4 linked regions of the Homo sapiens genome follow. The protein of the gene in region 1 interacts with the protein of each later gene in a biochemical or structural test. Each region holds a gene or a part of one and is shown on either strand. Other genes may lie near its edges.

Region 1 (5,639 bases):
AGACAACAGAGCAAGACTCCGTCTCAAAAAAAAAAAAAAAAAAAAAAAAAAAGGCCAGAAGGCCAGGCACGGTGGCTCACGGCTGTAATCCTAGCACTTTGGGAGGCCAAGGCAGGCAGATTGCCTGAGCTCAGGAGATGGAGACCAGCCTGGGCAACATGGTTAAACCCCGTCTCTACTAAAATACAAAAAAAAAAAAAAATTAGCCAGGCGTGGCAGCATGCACCTGTAGTCCCAGTTTACCTGGGAGGCTAAGGCAGGAGAACCGCATGAACCCGGGAGGCAGAGTTTGCAGTGAGCCGAGATCACGCCACTGCACTCCAGCCTGGGCGACAGAGCGAGACTCTTGTCTCCAAAAAAAAAAATAATAAAAAAAGTAGGCCAGGCGCGGTGGCTCACACCTATAATCCCAACACTTTGGGAGGCGGAGGCAGGCAGATCACCTGAGGTCAGGAGATCGGGACCATCCTGGCTAACACGGTAAAACCCTGTCTCTACTAAAAATACAAAAAAAAAAAACACCTAGCCGGGCGTGGTGGCGGGCACCTGTAGTCTCAGCTACTCAGGAGGCTGAGGAAGGAGAACTGCTTGAACTCGGAGGGCGGAGGTTGCAGTGAGCCGAGATCGCGCCACTGCACTCCAGCCTGGGTGACAGAGCGAGACTGTGTCTCAAAAAAAAAAAAAAAAAAAAAAAAATTAGCTGGGCATGGTGACATGCCTGTAAACCCCAACTAATGGGGAGGCTGAGGCAGGAGAATCACTTGAATCCAGGAGGTGGAGGTTGCAGTGAGCTGGGATCACGCCATTGCACTCCAGCCTGGGCAACAAGAGCAAAACTCCATCTCAAAAAATAAATAAATAAAATAAGTTAGTTGAAGGGCTACATGTCTGGCACTTGAGGTAAGTGCTTCTCTCTCACTGAAATCTCATGGCGCTTCCTTACCATTCCCTTTCTACAGAAGAAAAAAACTGAATTACAAAGGAGACATACTACTGCCAAGGGTCTCAAGCCATCAAGTGTCAGAGCTAGTATTTAACTGTCAGTTTCTCTCCAGAATCCATGCTCTTAAATAAGATACTCTACTGCCTTTTCTTTCCTTCTTTTTTTTGTGTGTATGTTTGAGACGGAGTTTCGCTCTGTTGCCCGGGCTGGAGTGCAGCAATCTTGGCTCACTGCAACCTGCGCCTCTCAAGTTCGAGGGATTCTCCTGCTTCAGCCTTCCGAGTAGCTGGGATTACAGGCACTCACTAATACACTCGGCTGATTTTTGTATTTTTAGTAGAGATGGGGTTTCACCATGTTGGTCAGACTGGTTTCGAACTCCTGACCTCAGGTGACCCACCCACCTCGGCCTCCCAAAGTGCTGGGATAACTGGCATGAGCCACCATACGCAGCCTGCCTTCTGTTTCTGAACTTAAGATCTTCAAAAGATAAACAGAGCTTCATTATGAATAACTGGAAAAGTTAAACAAGAGATTTCATCCAGAAAAGAAATTTTCCACACACACAAAAAAACAGGTATTTCCAACAAAGCTGCCATATCACATAATAAAATTATCTTGTAGAAAAAAGCATTAACAAAGTGTTACAACATTAAATATCCATCTTAAATTTACTTCCTTAACCTCTCAAAGCCTATATCCCAAACAAAGTTACAAAAAAAAATCCCAGTAGTAGAGCATATGATCTCTAGGTCCATGGAAGAGACACCAGAGAATCACAACTCATCTGCAACATACAGACTAGGATACAATGGCTAGAAGAATACAGTAAAATAAAAATGTATACATAACAAAAGTTAGAATGCTCAACCATATACTTGAAGTCAAAACAAGCAACTTTTTTAAATCATGGGACTGAATCCTTGTGCTTTAGAGCAGCTATAAGCTTCAGAAATTAAAAATCTTGGCCAGGGTAGCTCACGCCCGTAATCCCAGCAGGAAGCTGAGGCGGGTGGATTGCCTGAGGTCAGGAATTTGAGACCAGCCTGGCCGACATGGTAAAATTCTTGTCTCTACTAAAATACAAAATACAAAAATTAGCCAAGGGTGGTGGGCAGGTGGTGGATGGCACCTGTAATCGAGCTAGTGGGTAGGTTGAGGCACGAGAATCGCTTGACTCACATCTTTAATCCCAGCACTTTGGGAGGCTGAGGCAGGAGGACAACTTGAGCCCAGGAGTACAAGATCTGTCTGGGCAACATAGCAAGACACCATCTCTAGTACAAAAAAAGAGAAGAAAAAAATAAAGCAAAAAAATTTTAAAAACAAATCCTTAGTGGCTCATGCTTGTAATCCCAACACCTTGGGAGGCCAAGGTGGGTGGGTCACGGGGTCACGAGGTCAAGAGATCAAGGCCATCCTGGCCAACATGGTGAGATCCCGTCTTTACTAAAAATACAAAAATTAGTCGGGCATGGTCACACACACACACCTGTAGTCCCAGCTACTCTAGAGACTGAGGCACGAGAATCGCTTGAACCTGGGAAACAAAGGTTGAAGTGAACAAAGATCACTCACTGCACTCCAGCCTGGGTGACAGTGAGACCCTGTCTCAAGAGAAGAGAAGAGAAGAACCAATGACTTCAAATAAAATAGGCAGAAGTCACTAAGTCAAGGAAATTAATATTATGAAATCCTTTCCGTTTTTTTTTTTTTTTTTTTTTTTTTGAGTCTTGCACCGTCTCCCAGGCTGGAGTGCAATGGCTCGATCTCTGCTCACAGCAACCTCCGCCTCCCAGGTTAAAGTGATTCTCCTATCTCAGCCTCCTGAATAGCCGGGATTATAGGCGCCTGCTGCCACGCCCAGCTAATGTTTTGTATTTTTAGTAGAGACAGGGTTTCACCATGTGGCCAGGCTGGTCTCAAACTCCTGACCTCAAGTGATCCACCTGCCCAGCACTTCCAAAGTGCTGGGATTACAGGCATCAGCCACTGCTCCCAGCCAGGAATTCCTTTTTATATTTGTCCAAATTATCATATTAGTTTACTATTTAGTCAGAATGGAATTAGATCTACTCCTACTCACAGTGATTCTAGTTTTTTTTTTAATATCAGATCATGTCATTCCCTTTCTAAAGAATATCTAAATGACTTCTAATCTCAGAACAAATCCAAAGAATTTCCCATGTCCTAAAGGCCCTATATGATTTGGCCCCTGCCCACCTCTCTAACCTCTTTTTACCTCCAACTTTTCCTTTCACTCCACTTCAAACTTACTTCATTGGCTGTGTATGTTTTCCTCTTTCCCTTCACTTAAATTTAAGATACTATCATAAATATGCTTAAATATGGCCAGACATAGTGGCTCTCACCTGCAATCTCAACACTTTCAGAGGCCAAGGGGGGCAGATCACAAGGCCAGGAGTTCGAGAACAGCCTGACCAACATGGTGAAACCCCGTCTCTACTAAAAATACAAAAATTAGCTGAGCACAGTGGCGCATGCTGGTACTCCCAACTACTCCAGAGGCCGAGGCACAAGAATCACTTGAACTAGGAGGCGGCGGTTGCAGTGAGCCGAGATGGCGCTACTGCACTCTGGCCCGGACGACAGAGTGAGACTCAGTCTCAAAAGAGAAAAAAAAAAAAATATATATATATACACACACACATACACACACGTATATGTACACATATATATACGTATACACGTATATGTACACATATATATACGTATACACGTATATACGTATACACAAGTATATATACATATACACACACACACATATGCTTAAATATACATACTCATCCTCTTCAAAAAATAAAATCAAGCTAAGTTTGGCATAAACTGCATACTGATTGCAATTTAGCAAGAGTATTTGATGTTTTTCTTTATTATTAGCTATAAAAATGTATTTGGATGAAGCATCAATAAACTGAGACCAACACCCAGAACGAGCAGCTTCAGTGCCTGATTTTCAGTCACATGACTATCGTAATTATGAACATACCAAGGCCTTCACTTAATACTACAGCTCCACAGATTAAAGATGAGGGATTTTATAGTAATTACAAACTTCAAACCGTCTTGGAAATTTTAATCCCACAAATGAGCATGTCCCCAAAGAGCCCCATGTATAGCAAGGCATGTAACATTAAGTTCAAAATTTAGTTATATTAATGTGTAGTTACAAGCAAACAGTTCCATTGGGCAGGTAAACAAAGGAATAAACTAAATGGCAGAGTCAGACAAAATACTTAAGATCCTTTTTTTTTTTTTTTGAGACGGAGTCTCGCTCTGTTGCCCTGGCTGGAGCACAGTGGCGCGATCTCAGCTCACGGCAAGCTCCGCCTCTCGGGTTCACGCCATTCCCCTGCCTCAGCCTCCAGAGCAGCTGGGACTACAGGCGCCCGCCACCACACCCAGCTAATTTTTTTTGTATTTTTAGTAGAGACGGGGTTTCACCGTGTTAGCCAGGATGGTCTCCAGACCTCGTGATCCGCCCGCCTCGGCCTCCCAAAGTGCTGGGATTACAGGCATGAACCACCGCGCCCTGCCAGGATCCTTTTAAAACTACAAATATGGGTGGGCGTGGTGGCTCACCCTTGTAATCCCAGCACTTTGGGAGGCCAAGGCAGGCGGATCACCTGAGGTCAGGAGTTCAAGACCAGCCTGGCCAACACGGTGAAACCCCATCTCTACTAAAAATACAAAAGTTAGCCAGGAATGGTGGTGGGTGCCTGTAGTCCCAGCTACTCCAGGGGCCGAGGCAGGAGAATCACTTGAACCCAGGAGGCAGACGGTGCAGTGAGCTGAGATCGCGCCACTGCACTCCAGCCTGGGCAACAGAGTGAGACTCCATTTCAAAAATAAAAATAAATATAAAACTACAACTATATGGCCAATTTTAAAATCCAGTGACTATGTACTATTTATCATAATCACTAGTAACCACAATGCAATTAAACCCAAGGTGCTGTCTACAGAAGGCCAGCAGCTTCAAATTAGCTCTCTTAGAAGCTGATCAGTCTTTCTTCTCAGAGTTAACATATATCTCTCAGCTCTCTAAGACAATTAAAAAGACGCAAACTAGCACCTTCTCCAGTCACTGCATGGACTCCACCCCATGGACAAGAAACACCTGAAGAGCTACCTGTTTTTACTCTCCTAATAACTTACACCCCCATATGACCAGAATAAACTTTTAAAAAGCAGTTAACTGACAAATGGAAAGAAATCAGGACTACGAAAATACTCCACCACCACCACATGCATGTGCACAGGGAATTGTTTACTTGATACACGCAGTACCCCAAATCAACAGTCAAAAGTGCCCACAGTTAACTAAAAATATCTTAGCCTGACCTAAATATCTTGGTTTTGAAGCAGTAAAGTGTAGGCCTTGCTCTAGAAGTTGGTCCCTTAAAAAAAAATCCAAACAAAGCCATGATTAGGCCAACCAGGGACCCTCGTACATTCATCTATCTCCCTCAATTGAAGGCAGGACCATCCAGTTAACAAGGGGAGAGTGCTGTGTAAGCTAATGAACCGAAATTTTTTGGCAAATGAACAGTTTCTCCCAAACTATTCACCATCAACAAGGTTTAAAAGAAGAAACAATGGAATAAGCTAGAAGTCCTGAATTTTAGCTGACTCTGGAGGCCAACTGCTTGGGAGTAAATGGAGAATACCTTAA
Region 2 (3,975 bases), on another chromosome or scaffold:
GTTGCAGTGAGTCAAGATTGCACCATTGCACTTCAGCCTGGGTGACAGGAGTGAAACTCTATCTCAAAAAAAAAAAAAAAAAAAAGATGTTCTCTATTTTTTTTGTAAAAAGCCATTTTAACTGGGATGAAATGATATCTCATTTAATTTTGATTTGCTTTTCTCTGATGATTAGTGACATTGAGCATTTTTTCATATCTCTGTTGACCATTTGTATGTCTTCTTTTGAGAAATATCTATTCAGATCTTTTGCCCATTTTTAAACTGGATTATTTGGTTTTTTGTTACAGAGTTGTTTGAGCTCCTTATATATTCTGGTTATTAATCCCTCGTCAGATTGATACTTTGCAAATATTTTCTCCTATTCTGTGGGTTGTCTCTTCACTTTGTTGATTGTTTCCATGGCTGTCCTGAAGCTTTTTAGCTTGACATAATCCCATTTTTCTATTTTTGGTTTGGTTGCCTATGCTTTTGAGGTCTTCCACAAAAAATCTCTTTGCCCAGACCAATGTCCTGGAATATTTCTCCAATGTTTTCTTCTAGTAGTTTCATAGTTTCAGGTCTTACATTTAAATGTTTAATCCATTTTTATTTGATTTTTTTATATGGTGAGAGATAGGGGTCTAGTTTCATTCATCTGCATGTGGTTATTTAGTTTTCCCAGAACCATTTATTGAAAGGACTGTTCTTTCCCCATTGTGTGTTCCTGGAGCCTTTGTCAAAAATGAGTTCTCTGTAAATGCATGGATTTATATCTAGGTTATCTATTCTGTTCCATTGGTCTTTGTGTCTCTTTTTATGCCAGTACTATGCTGATTTGGTTACTATAGCTTTGTACTACATTTTGTTTTTTTGTTTTATTTTAGAGACAGGATTTTTCTCTGGTGTCCAGGCTGGAGTGCAGTGGTATGATCATAGGTCACTGCAGCCTCAGTCTCCTTGGGCTCATGGGATCCTCCTGCTTCAGCCTCCTGAATAGCTGGGGCTATAGGTGTGTACCACCGTGGCCAGTTCGTAGTGTATTTTGAAGTCAGGAAATGTGATGCCTCCAGCTTCGTTCTTTTTACTCAGGCTTACTTTGGCTATTTGAGGTCTTTTGTAGTTCCGTATAAATTTTAGGATTTTTTTTCTATATCTATGAAGAATGCCTTTGCTATTTTGACAGAGATTGCACCAAATCTATAAATTGCTTTGGGTAATATTGTTATTTTAACAATATTAATTTTTCCAATACATAGCATGGGATATCTCTCCATTTTTTTGCATCCTCTTCAATTTATTTCATCAGTTTTATAGTTTTTCTTGTATAGATCTTTCACTTTGGTTACATCGATTCTTAGGTATTTTACATTCTTTGTAGCTGTTGGAAATGGGATTGCACTCAACTTCTTTTTCAGATTGTTTGCTGTTAGCGTATACAAATGCTACTGGGTTTTGTATGTTGAATTATCCTGCAACTTTACTGAATTCATTCATCAACTCTAACGGTTTTTTGTTGGAGTCCCTTTTTTTTTTTTTTTTTTTTTTGAGGAGGAGGAGGAGTCTTGCTTTTATCGCCCAGGCTGGAGTGCAATGGCACGATCTCAGCTCACTGCAACCTCCGCCTCCCGAGTTCAAGTGATTCTCCTGCCTCAGCCTCCCAAGTTAGCTGGGATTACAGGCACCTGCCACCACACCTGGCTAATTTTTTTTTTTTTTGTATTTTTAGTAGAGACAGCATTTCACCGTGTTGGCCAGGCTGGTCTCAAACTCCTGACCTCAGATGATCTGCCCACCTCGGCCTCCCAAAGTGCTGGGATTACAGGTATAAGCCACTGTGCCCGGCCTTTTTTTTTTTTTTAAGAGAGAGACAGGATCTCACTGTATTGCCCAGGCTGGTGTCGAACTCCTGGCCTCAAGCAATCCAACCACCTCAGCTTCCCAAAGTGTTAGGATTACAAGTGTAAGCCACCACGCCCCATGGAGTCTTTAGATTTTTCTAAGTAGAAGACCATGCCATCTGCAAACAAGGCTAATCTGACTTCTTCATTTCCAGTTTGGATGCCCTTCATTTCCTTCTCTTGCCTAATTGCTCTGGCCAGAACTCCCAATACTACATGGAATAAAAGTGGTAAAAGTGGGCATCCTTGTCTTGTTCCAGATCTTAGAGGAAAGGCTTTCAATTTTTCTCCATTTATTACAATGTTAGCTGTGAGTTTGTCATAGATAGCGTTTATTATTTTAAGGTATGTTGCCTCTATACCCAATATTTTAGGGCTTTTATAACACGATGTTGAATTTTTTTAGAAAGCTTTTTCAGGGTCTATTGAAATGATCATATATGGTTTTTGCTCTTGGTTCTGTTACTATGATGTGTCATGCATATTGATTTGTGCATGTTGAACCATCCTTGCATCCCTGGGATGAATCCCATCTGATCATGGTGAAAGATCTATACTCACAATATTGTACAACCATCACCACTATCTATTTCCAAAACTTTTTCATCACACCAAACAGAAACTCTGTACCTACCAAGCAATAACTCCTCATACTCCCTGACCCCAGCTCCTAGTATCCTCTATTCTGCTTTCTGTCTCCATGAATTTGCCTTTTCTAGGTATCTTACATAAATAGAATCATAAAATATTTGTCCCTTTGTGTCTGGTTTCTTTTACTTAGAAATGTTTTCAGGCTTCATCTATGTTGTCAAATATATCAGAATTTCATTCCTTTTTAAGGCTGGATAATATCCCTAACAGTGTGTGAGGATCTCAGTTTCTCCATTTCCTTACCAACAGTTGTTTTTCCTTTTAAAAAATTATCATAGCCATCCTAGGATCTGTCTAATTTTGTCACATAAGGTGTTACTGTGGAAAGGAGCACGGATCTACGCAGAAGTCCAAGCCTCATCACTAACAGACTAACAGTGTGAGGTGGACAATCCTGGAGCTCTTAGTGCCTCAGTTTCTTTCTCTGTAAAGTGGAGCTAATAATGCCTGCCTGGCAAAGCTGTATAGGTGGAGTGAAGATAATGATGCATATAAAATACTAGTACAGACTCTAGAATGTGGTAGCTATTATTTTCCACAGAATGTAAACTTAATGGAGGCAGAGATTTGGTCTGTTAGGCACACCTTAGTATCCCAACCCCTGGAGCAGTGAGTGGCACTCAGTAGGCACTCCAAAAACATCTGCGGAATGAATGAATGAACTCTTAACAAGCAGGGCTATGTGGAAGTGAGTTGTCATGGATAGTGAGGACCCTGTTACTGGCAGTGTTCAAGCGTGATCTGCATAAACACTGAGTGGCGATTATGTACTGGGCCCCGTGGAATAATAGCAAGATGGAAACGCACCCACCTAGCCTTCAAAGAGCAAAGGCTACAGAGTTGTGGGGACTTAAGTCCCCCATAACTTATGATGCAAGCCATGCAGGCTCCTGGCAGAGTGGGGTCCCCAGGGAAGATAGCCAGGAGGGCTAGGGGCTTGAGCTGGAGCACCCTTGGGGCAGGTGGGGCCCTGACCCAGTGAGGCCAGCCTGGCTGCGGCCACCTACCCTGTGCCAGGTGCTGCCAGACCGCGACGGAAAGCGCTGCATGTTCTGTGTGAAGACAGCCAACCGCACGTATGAGATGAGCGCCTCAGACACGCGCCAGCGCCAGGAGTGGACAGCTGGTGAGTGCTCGCTAGGTGGCTTGGGTCTGGGTGGTCCTTAGGCGCCTCATCTGTGAAAAGGGGGTGATAATACTTTGTCCAGCGGGAGGTTGGAGAGTGGACTCGGGAAACTCCTAAGGCCCCTTTCGGGCCGTGTGCGAGGATCCTACTGACCCGCTCCCGCTCTTCGGCAGCCATCCAGATGGCGATCCGGCTGCAGGCCGAGGGGAAGACGTCCCTACACAAGGACCTGAAGCAGAAACGGCGCGAGCAGCGGGAGCAGCGGGAGCGGCGCCGGGCGGCCAAGGAAGAGGAGCTGCTGCGGCTGCAGCAGCTGCA
Region 3 (3,975 bases), on another chromosome or scaffold:
GCTGCCACTGGCGCTCGCGCTCCCAGCGCTGCTGCTCGTGCCGCAGCTGGCTCTGCAGCTTCTCCAGGGCCGCGCGCTCCTCCCGCTGCTTCTCGAAGTTGCGTTGCCGCTCCTGCTCCAGCAGCAGGTTCCCACGCGTCGACTGCAGCCGGAACTGCTTCTCCCGCTCCTGGATGGCAGCCCGCTGCGTCTCCACATAGCTGTCCTGGTGGGCGATTACCGCCTGCGGAGGGCCAGGGCCAGGCGAGTGAGAGCCGCACCTGCGCCCCAGCCAACCAGGAAAGGGCACGCGTGGCCGGCCCCACCCCGCCCCTGTACCTGAAGGTTCAGGAGCAGCTGGGACAGTGTCTGGATCCGCTGGACAAGCTGCGGAGAGGAGAGGGAGATTGATGCTAGTTATCGGGCTGAGGCCACACGCGCGTGCACAAGGCCCTGGGGAGATGGAGACCCGCGGGCGCCTACCTCCGACTCCAGGACGGTGGGCAGACGGGGATCGGATTCCGTGCCTGGCGCCTCCACCTGGGAAGAGGACACCGTCAAACCAGAGAGAGTGGCTCAAGACCCATCCGACTAGACTCAAGCCTTCTTCTTCTTCTTCTTTTTTTTTAACTTTTTTTTTTTTTTTTTTTTTTGAGACGGAATTCTGCTCTTGTTGCCCAAGCTGGAGTGCAGTGGCGCGATCTTGGCTCACTGCACCCTCCAGCTCCCGGGTTCAAGCAATTCTCCTGCCTCAACCTCCCGAGTAATTGGGATTATAGGCTCAAGCCTCCACGCCTGGCTAATTTTGTGTATTTTTAGTAGAAACGGAGTTTCACCATGTTGGCCAGGCTGGTTGCAAACTCCTGACCTCAGGTGATCCGCCCGCCTCGGCCTCCCAAAGTGCTGGGATTACAGGCATGAGCCACCATGCCTGGCTTCTTTTTTTTTTTTTTGAGACAGGGCCTTGCTCTAGAGTGTAGTGGCCTGATCCTCCCACCTCGGCCTCCTGAGTAGCTGGGACTACAGGTGTGCACCACCAGGATCAGCTATTTTTAATTTTTTTTTTTTTTTTTTTTGAGATGGAGTTTTGCTCGTTGCCCAGGCTGGAGTGCAATGGCACGATCTCAGCTCACTGAAACCACCACCTTCCTGGTTCAAGTGATTCTCCTGCCTCAGCCTCCCAAATAGCTGGGATTACTCGAATGTGCCACCACGCCTGGCTAATTTTGTATATTTGGTAGAGGCGGGGTTTCACCATGTTGGTCAGGCTGGTCTCGAATTCCTGACCTCAGGTGATCCACCTGCCTTGGCTTCCCAAAGTGCTGGGATTACAGGCGTGAGCCACCACACCCAGCAGCTATTTTTAACTTTTTTGAAACAAAGTCTTGCTTGGTCGCCCAGGCTAGAGTGCAGTGGTGCAATCTCGGCTCACTGCAACCTCCACCTCCTAGGTTCAAGCGATTCTCCCACCTTAGCCTCCTGAGTAGCTGGGATTACAGGTATCCACCACCACGTCCAGCTAATTTTTATATTTTTAGTAGAGACAGGGTTTCACCATGTTGGCCAGGCTGGTCTCAAACCCTGGACTCAAGTGATCACCCGAGTCGGCCTCCTGAAGTGCTGGGATTACAGGCATGAGCCACCGCACCCAGCCAAAGGATCAGCTATTTTAAAAATATTTTGTCGACATGTGGTCTTGCTATGTTGCCCAGGCTGGTCTCAAACTCATGGCCTCAAGTGATCCTCCCAAGGCCAGGTATGGCGGCCTTGCCTATAATCCCAACACTTTGGGAGGCCCAGGCAGGAGGATTGCTTGAGCCCAGGAGTTGGAAACCAGCCTGGGCAACATAGTGAGACCCTGTATCTACCAAACATTTAAAAAATTAGTCAGGTGTGGGGGCGCGCACCTGTAGTTTCAGCTACTTGGGAGGCTGAGGTGGGAGGATTGCTTGAGCCTAGGAGTTAGAGGCTGTGTGAGCTGTGATCACGCCACTGCCCTCAAGCCTGGGTGACAGAGTGAGACCTTGTCTCCAAAAAAAAAAAAAAAAAGTGATCCTCCCACCTCGGTCTCCCAAAACACTGGGATTATGGGTGTGAGGCACTGCACCCGGCCCCTGCTTATTATTGAAAATACATCCCTTAGTGTGGATAACAGGAAGGACCCAGGACCGGGTCATGACTGGGAACACAGGCCCTGCTGGTCAGCTGACTTGTACAAATCTGGGTGTTTGGAAAACGAGGGGCTGGGGCCTCCTGGGAGGTAGAGTGGGCTTGGCTATGAGGCCTGCGTGCCAGCTCTGGCCACAGGGGCAAGTCCAAGCCTCAGAACTGATCAGAGGCAACTGGCCTTGGCCTCTGACCCCCTGACCTGGGCAGGGCCGAGTAGGCACCTGGCCTTCTGATTCAAAGGCAAAGGAATAGCCGGGGACATCTGGCATCTGGTAGGCACCACCACACCTGCCCCGGCTGAAAGCTGGTGGTCCCTGTAGGGGGTTCCTCGCCTGTTGATGAAGCCATGGTGAGTGCCCTGAGCCTGTCCCCTCCCCAGCCTTCCTCTTGGGGACCTCTTTGCTTTTCCCAGGAGGCTGCAGGAAGAAATCACCTGCCAGTGCATTAATCTGGGCTGAGATACTGTTATTCACCACAAAACAAACAATGCTTGTCGATGCTAATAAGACTAAAACTGGACAACCCCAGCAGAAGCTGCTCACACACATGAATCCTTATGACGACTCAGACTGTACCGAGCAAATGGATATCCACGTACCACCTGCGGCGATTCCTCAGAGCTCCCAGGAATGTCACTGTCACTGAGCTTCAAGTCCGGGCTGTTTGGGGGGCCTCGCCAGTCTCGGGGCCTGGGGTCAGTGCTGCTGACTTTCTTCTTGAAACTGCCATCTGAGAACCCCAAGCCAGGGGCATGAGGATGCTGCCATCCCGTGGGGAGGGGGAAGCTTCCCAGTCCACCCCCAGCCCCTGCCCAGGTAGGAAACCCAGGCTAGGCCCGAATGGTGGCGTCTGCAGCACAGACGCCTGCTGGAGAGGGGCAGGCTGGTCTGGGTGCTGCTGTCACAACACAACCAACGATGTCTGGAGGGTTTCAGAAGGTTCCAGAAAATCGGCTGGGTGCGGTGGCTCACACCTGCAATCTCAGCACTTTGGGAGGCTGAGGCGGGCGGATCACCTGAAGTCAGGAGTTCGAGACCAGCCTGGCCAACATGGTGAAACCCCATTTCTACTAAAAATACAAAAAGTAGCCGGGCATGGTGGCGTGTGCTTATAGTCCCAGCTACTTGGTAGGCTGAGGCGGGAGAATCACTTGAACCCAGGAGGCAGAGGTTGCAGAGAGCTGAGATTGCGCCACTGCACTCCAGCCTGGGTGACAGAGCAAGACTCTGTCTCAACAACAACAAAAAAGAAAGTTCTAGGAAACCCCATACAAGTTAATGTGCATCCTGAGGGGCGGCCCTGGAGGCAGGAGGGGAGACGGCCCCGCTCTTACTCTTGGTGGGGCTGTTTGTGCAGTCGTAGCCCGCGAAGGTCTCAGCCCTCCTGGGCGGGCCTGTGGAGCTGCCTCCGTCTTCCGCCTGGCCGTTGGCGCTGCCCAGCTGCCTGCAGATCAGGCTCTGGATGCCCTCGACTGTGGAAGGAAGGGGACAGGAGGCACGGGTCGCCCTGCGGAAGTGTGCTGGGGGAATACGGAGCGCTGGGGCAGCGAGACCCGGGTGGACGGAGGGACTCACTGGGGTGGTGATCGCCTGCCCCCTTCTGTGTGCCGTGGGATTTCAGCCCCACTGTCCCTGCGCACACCCTTACTTCAGGTATGGCCACCAGGACAGGCCAATCTGCGTCTAAGTGAGAGGACAGGGCTGTGGGGCAGCCATGGGGAGGGCGGGTACAGGCTCCTGCAGCTCCTTCCACCAGGCCGCCCTGGGCCAGGGGCTGGCGAATGCTGGATGTGGCCCTGCCCAGGGCCAGCAGGAAACACTTGGTGTG
Region 4 (3,975 bases), on another chromosome or scaffold:
AGTCACTATTTATTTTATTGCACTTTTCCTCTTTAAAAATATTCAAACACAAACTATGAGAGATGAAGCTGAGATTTGGTGGGAAGGGAAGCAGAAAAAAAGGAAAAGTAAACTAGGTTAGTTTGAGGAAGAGAACCTTCCTGCATGTAGGGGAGCCCCTACCTCCATCTGTCCCTGCTGGTTGCTTTGATAGGGGAACAGGGTTGGACTCAACAAGGGCTAAGTCTGAAGATATAGATGATGGTCACAATAGCTACTGAGAGAGCTCCCAGCATCCCCCTCTCTGCGCGTTGGCTCAGGTGACTGATGATGTTAATGAGGTTAAGGTCATGAGTTCAAACCCGGCAATGGATACCTTGCCAAGGCTAGGGGAACCTCCATTGTGCAACCAAGGAGCACCATGGATATTATAGCCCTCGCAGATGAGGCGGCCATCACCCACATACAAGTTATTATGACAATGGGCCCCAGGAAAGCTCTGGGGAGCAGAGCTCAGCACCATCATCCCCTCTCTTGAGTAAACAAGTCAAAGCACTGTGCTCCCCTGCCTGACATAGGGGTAGTGGTGCCACCTTCATATGCAATTTGCACACTGTTCTATAGTTTCCTTAGGGGGGAGTCAGCCTCTGTGACTCTACTACTGTGGGCAGTGCTGAATCCCCAGCCTGAGGAGCTTCAGAGGGTGCTGTCCTCTCTCCACATGGGTTGATACTGATAGAGTCCTCACTATAATATAGTGAGAGATCCAGGAAGAATAGGTAGAACAAGCTAGTCCTGGGCCCTCCCAACACGGAGCAGCAACATGAACACCCAGGCTGGGGTCTCAGGCCATCATAGCTTCCATGGGAGCCCTTTCCATACTAGGCTAACGCAATCTAGAGGCACACTCCCGTGGGGCCCCTTTTAAAAGGCTAACCTCATGGTGACATGCCAACACTAGCCTCAGAAACACAGGTGAGAGGGACAGAGGCAAGCAGAGAAGAAGGAAGAGAGCATGTCAAATATTACTGAAGTTTCAGAAAGCACAGAGCCTTAATTATTTTCTTAATTAAATGTTGGCTCCTAAAAAGTTTACTCTGAAATTTGACCCACTCAGCCACTCTCTCTTCCTGACAATCTCTCCACCTTTCCTGGGCCTATTCCTTTTCGGTCTCCTGAAAACTCCAAGTTTCTTGAAAATGAATCCACAGAGGCACTTGATGAAGCCAACAGGAATGGTACCTTGACCTGGAAACACAAGTTTCCAGCAAAGCACACGTTTTGGACCCATATGTCCACTCCCTACTGTTGTTACCTTTTCTGTAGAGACTGGGAGCTGCGACCATCACTGGAAGGGAGAGTGAGACACAACGGGATGGCTGCAGGAGCAGAAATCAGGAGTGAGGCCTGATCCAAAGCCTGACTGCAACTCTTTACTTCCGATGTAGGTGAAGCCTTTGCTAAAATGCACTCAGCTCTCAGCTAGTCCTACTTAGGGGAAGAACCAGCTCCAAGAGTAATCCAAAATGGTGGGTAATCTTAGAAAGTATTTAAATATGGCCTTAGAATATAGGATAAAGTCAGGCCCTCTAAAAAGTGTTAGCTTGCTTAGCCTTAGATGTATGTTCTTAATCACTTTTTACTTAAGCTGAACTGGGTTGCATAGCAATTGGATGGGAGGCAGGGCATCCAGGGGAGCCCAACAAGAGGAAAAGGAAGAGCGTGCCCGGGATTGAACACACCCAGAGGGGAATCAGGAGTTGGCCCCTTTGGGCTTATGCACAAGAGCAAGTGAAATGCCACAAGCAAGTAAAGGTGGCTCATTTTAAGAGACAGGTCTCTATAGGGTCTCAACTTCCTGACCGTGCCCCCAACAAAGCTGCAAAGGATGGAAGGGCAATAAAATCTGTGGGCTTAGAGAATGTTGGGGACATCTTTACCCTGGTCCTGGGCTCAAGATCCTGCAGTTTCTTGAGCCATTACTGCTTTTAAGAGAATAGGGCTGAATCTGGAGATCCCAGGTGCTGGGAGAAGGGGAGCCTGGGCTATTGGGTTGTCTGTGCGGATTTGCTGGAAGGAAGGAAGGGTCATGGCAAGGAGGCCTATATTAGGCTACCAGCTGTCCCAGGTACTTTCACACCCTGCACCCAGGTTTCTGGTGGGAGGAAGGTGAATTGGTAGAGACCCCATGCAATTCCTGGTCTTAGTCAGATATCTGCTTGATGTGGTGGCCCATCCTCCTGCTTGAAACCTAGGAGTTACTTCTCAGGAGTGAAATCTGGTAGTGAGAGAAAAGAATAGAGAAAGAGATTCCTTGAAAGATCCTGGGGGATATAGACACAGGCCAGGCAAAGGTGATTACATCTGATCTTTTGTTTGTGCCTGTTAATTCATAGCTCTGGGGGCAGGGCAATGGGTCTGAGTATATGTCTGCATTTCATGTGTATTGTGCGATATTTTTGGGCATGTGTGCTATGTATCTTGTATGCCTATTATAAGTTAATGCATCGTGTGTATATACTGAGTTTGTGTGTATTTTATGTGTAGAAACAATGGTAAAGTAGCCTTTGTGTATCTTATATGCATATGCATTTTGTCCATGTAGTTTTTTATGTATTTTGCATCTGAGTTTCAGGTTGTATATTTGTATGTGGTGTATGTTTGTCTTTTGTGTATGTTCTGTGTAAATTCTATATCTGTGCAGAGTGTGCATTTTATATACAATTATAACCATATATCTTCTGTGTTTGCTTTTATGTTAACCTGGTCTGTCTGTATTTTGCACGTTACATGTTTTATGTTTGTGTGTGACAACAGTGTACCTATTTTGTGGTGAATGTGCATGACTGTATGTGAACATTTTAGAGTCCTGGGCCAAGGACACTGTGATAAGATATCTATCCCTGACCTAGGCCTCAGATATGGGTTGCTTTACCTTCTATTTTCCAAAGATCTGTGTCCCTCCCACCCCATGCCTTGGAAATTCAGCACCACCTCCCATGAAGGAGAGGAAGAGAAGCACAGAGGCTTTGTGCTGGGCATGGGATGCCCTGCAGATACCTGGGGATGTGGGTGACCAGGCACTAATGAGCACCCTGGGCCTAGCACCCTGAGCTGGTGCCCCATGCCCCAAGACAACTGTAGGTGCTAACTAGGCAGCAGTGAGGCCTGGGCTGGAGCCACCCCTGCATAGCCCGACCCCTGCAATTCACTGTTTGGGAAAATTAAGCTACTCCGTCAAAAGGCAAAGACGCCCAGTCTGGTGAGTTAAAAGCCCCCTACCTGAAGCCATTTCAGGGTCAACCTACTGTCTACCTTTAGGCTGTGCAGTGCTCATTTGCACTCTACTTCTTCTGGGGGGTGGGAAATGATTCTTTACCCATCCTTTGGTTCTTTTTAAAAAGCAGCTCTGGTTGCCAGTTTAATGGGGAGAGAGTTTGGGTCTGGAGATCAAAATGATGCCTTTGGATCATCTAGGGACTCCATCACTTAGTCCCGGACTTCAGACATTTCCACATAGAGGAGGCTCCCTTTAGGTCCAGATCAGTGGAATTTGGTCCCAGGGAGTCCTACTCCTTGGTGTCCTTGGTTTCAAAGCAGGGGATCCATTCTGGCTCTTTAGCGAAAGGTTTGTGAAAGTGACGGATGCAGAGCCAAATGATAATAAGATCCAAGTGGCAAGGGAAGAGGTGAAAATGGAGATGATGAACAGGATGAACTGTAGAGAGGAGGCCCGGGGTGGGTCTGGCCCAGGACAGCTGGAACTGTGAGGGCCACAGGGCCCTTGTGCACTCAGTAAGACAAGCTTCAGCCATGGGAACTGAAGCTGCAGCACATGGAGGGCAGAAAGACAATTCTAACGTCTAGGAATCCATGGATACCGGAGTGTCTGAGGCAATGGCAGCAAACCCAGGCCCAGTGGGGTTACCAATGAGACAAATTAACCCATTAGGCCTCTTAGACAGCCAACCCACCAAGCAGTGGATTTGCTCCTGA

Evidence for each region. Proteins that work in one complex are often made in the same cells at the same time.
Region 2: the proteins of RHOA (region 1) and DEF6 form a complex in vitro, tested with the Homo sapiens proteins (one study listed by BioGRID).
Region 3: the proteins of RHOA (region 1) and ARHGEF18 form a complex in vitro, tested with the Homo sapiens proteins (one study listed by BioGRID).
Region 4: the proteins of RHOA (region 1) and KCNA2 form a complex in vitro, tested with the Homo sapiens proteins (one study listed by BioGRID).

What each region holds. Positions count from the first base shown.
Region 1 is NC_000003.12:49,404,587-49,410,225, forward strand, and holds part of RHOA (transforming protein RhoA isoform 1 precursor), read right to left. Parts: intron 2,221-5,639; exon of another isoform or gene 2,126-2,220; intron 1-2,125. UniProt on the Homo sapiens protein: Small GTPase which cycles between an active GTP-bound and an inactive GDP-bound state.
Region 2 is NC_000006.12:35,314,343-35,318,317, forward strand, and holds part of DEF6 (differentially expressed in FDCP 6 homolog), read left to right. Parts: intron 1-3,548; coding exon 3,549-3,657; intron 3,658-3,830; coding exon 3,831-3,975.
Region 3 is NC_000019.10:7,463,462-7,467,436, reverse strand, and holds part of ARHGEF18 (rho guanine nucleotide exchange factor 18), read right to left. Parts: exon of another isoform or gene 3,654-3,975; intron 3,620-3,653; coding exon 3,482-3,619; intron 2,878-3,481; coding exon 2,747-2,877; intron 520-2,746; coding exon 463-519; intron 367-462; coding exon 319-366; intron 224-318; coding exon 1-223. UniProt on the Homo sapiens protein: Acts as a guanine nucleotide exchange factor (GEF) for RhoA GTPases. Its activation induces formation of actin stress fibers. Also acts as a GEF for RAC1, inducing production of reactive oxygen species (ROS). Does not act as a GEF for CDC42.
Region 4 is NC_000001.11:110,597,783-110,601,757, forward strand, and holds part of KCNA2 (potassium voltage-gated channel subfamily A member 2), read right to left. Parts: 3' UTR 1-3,975. UniProt on the Homo sapiens protein: Voltage-gated potassium channel that mediates transmembrane potassium transport in excitable membranes, primarily in the brain and the central nervous system, but also in the cardiovascular system.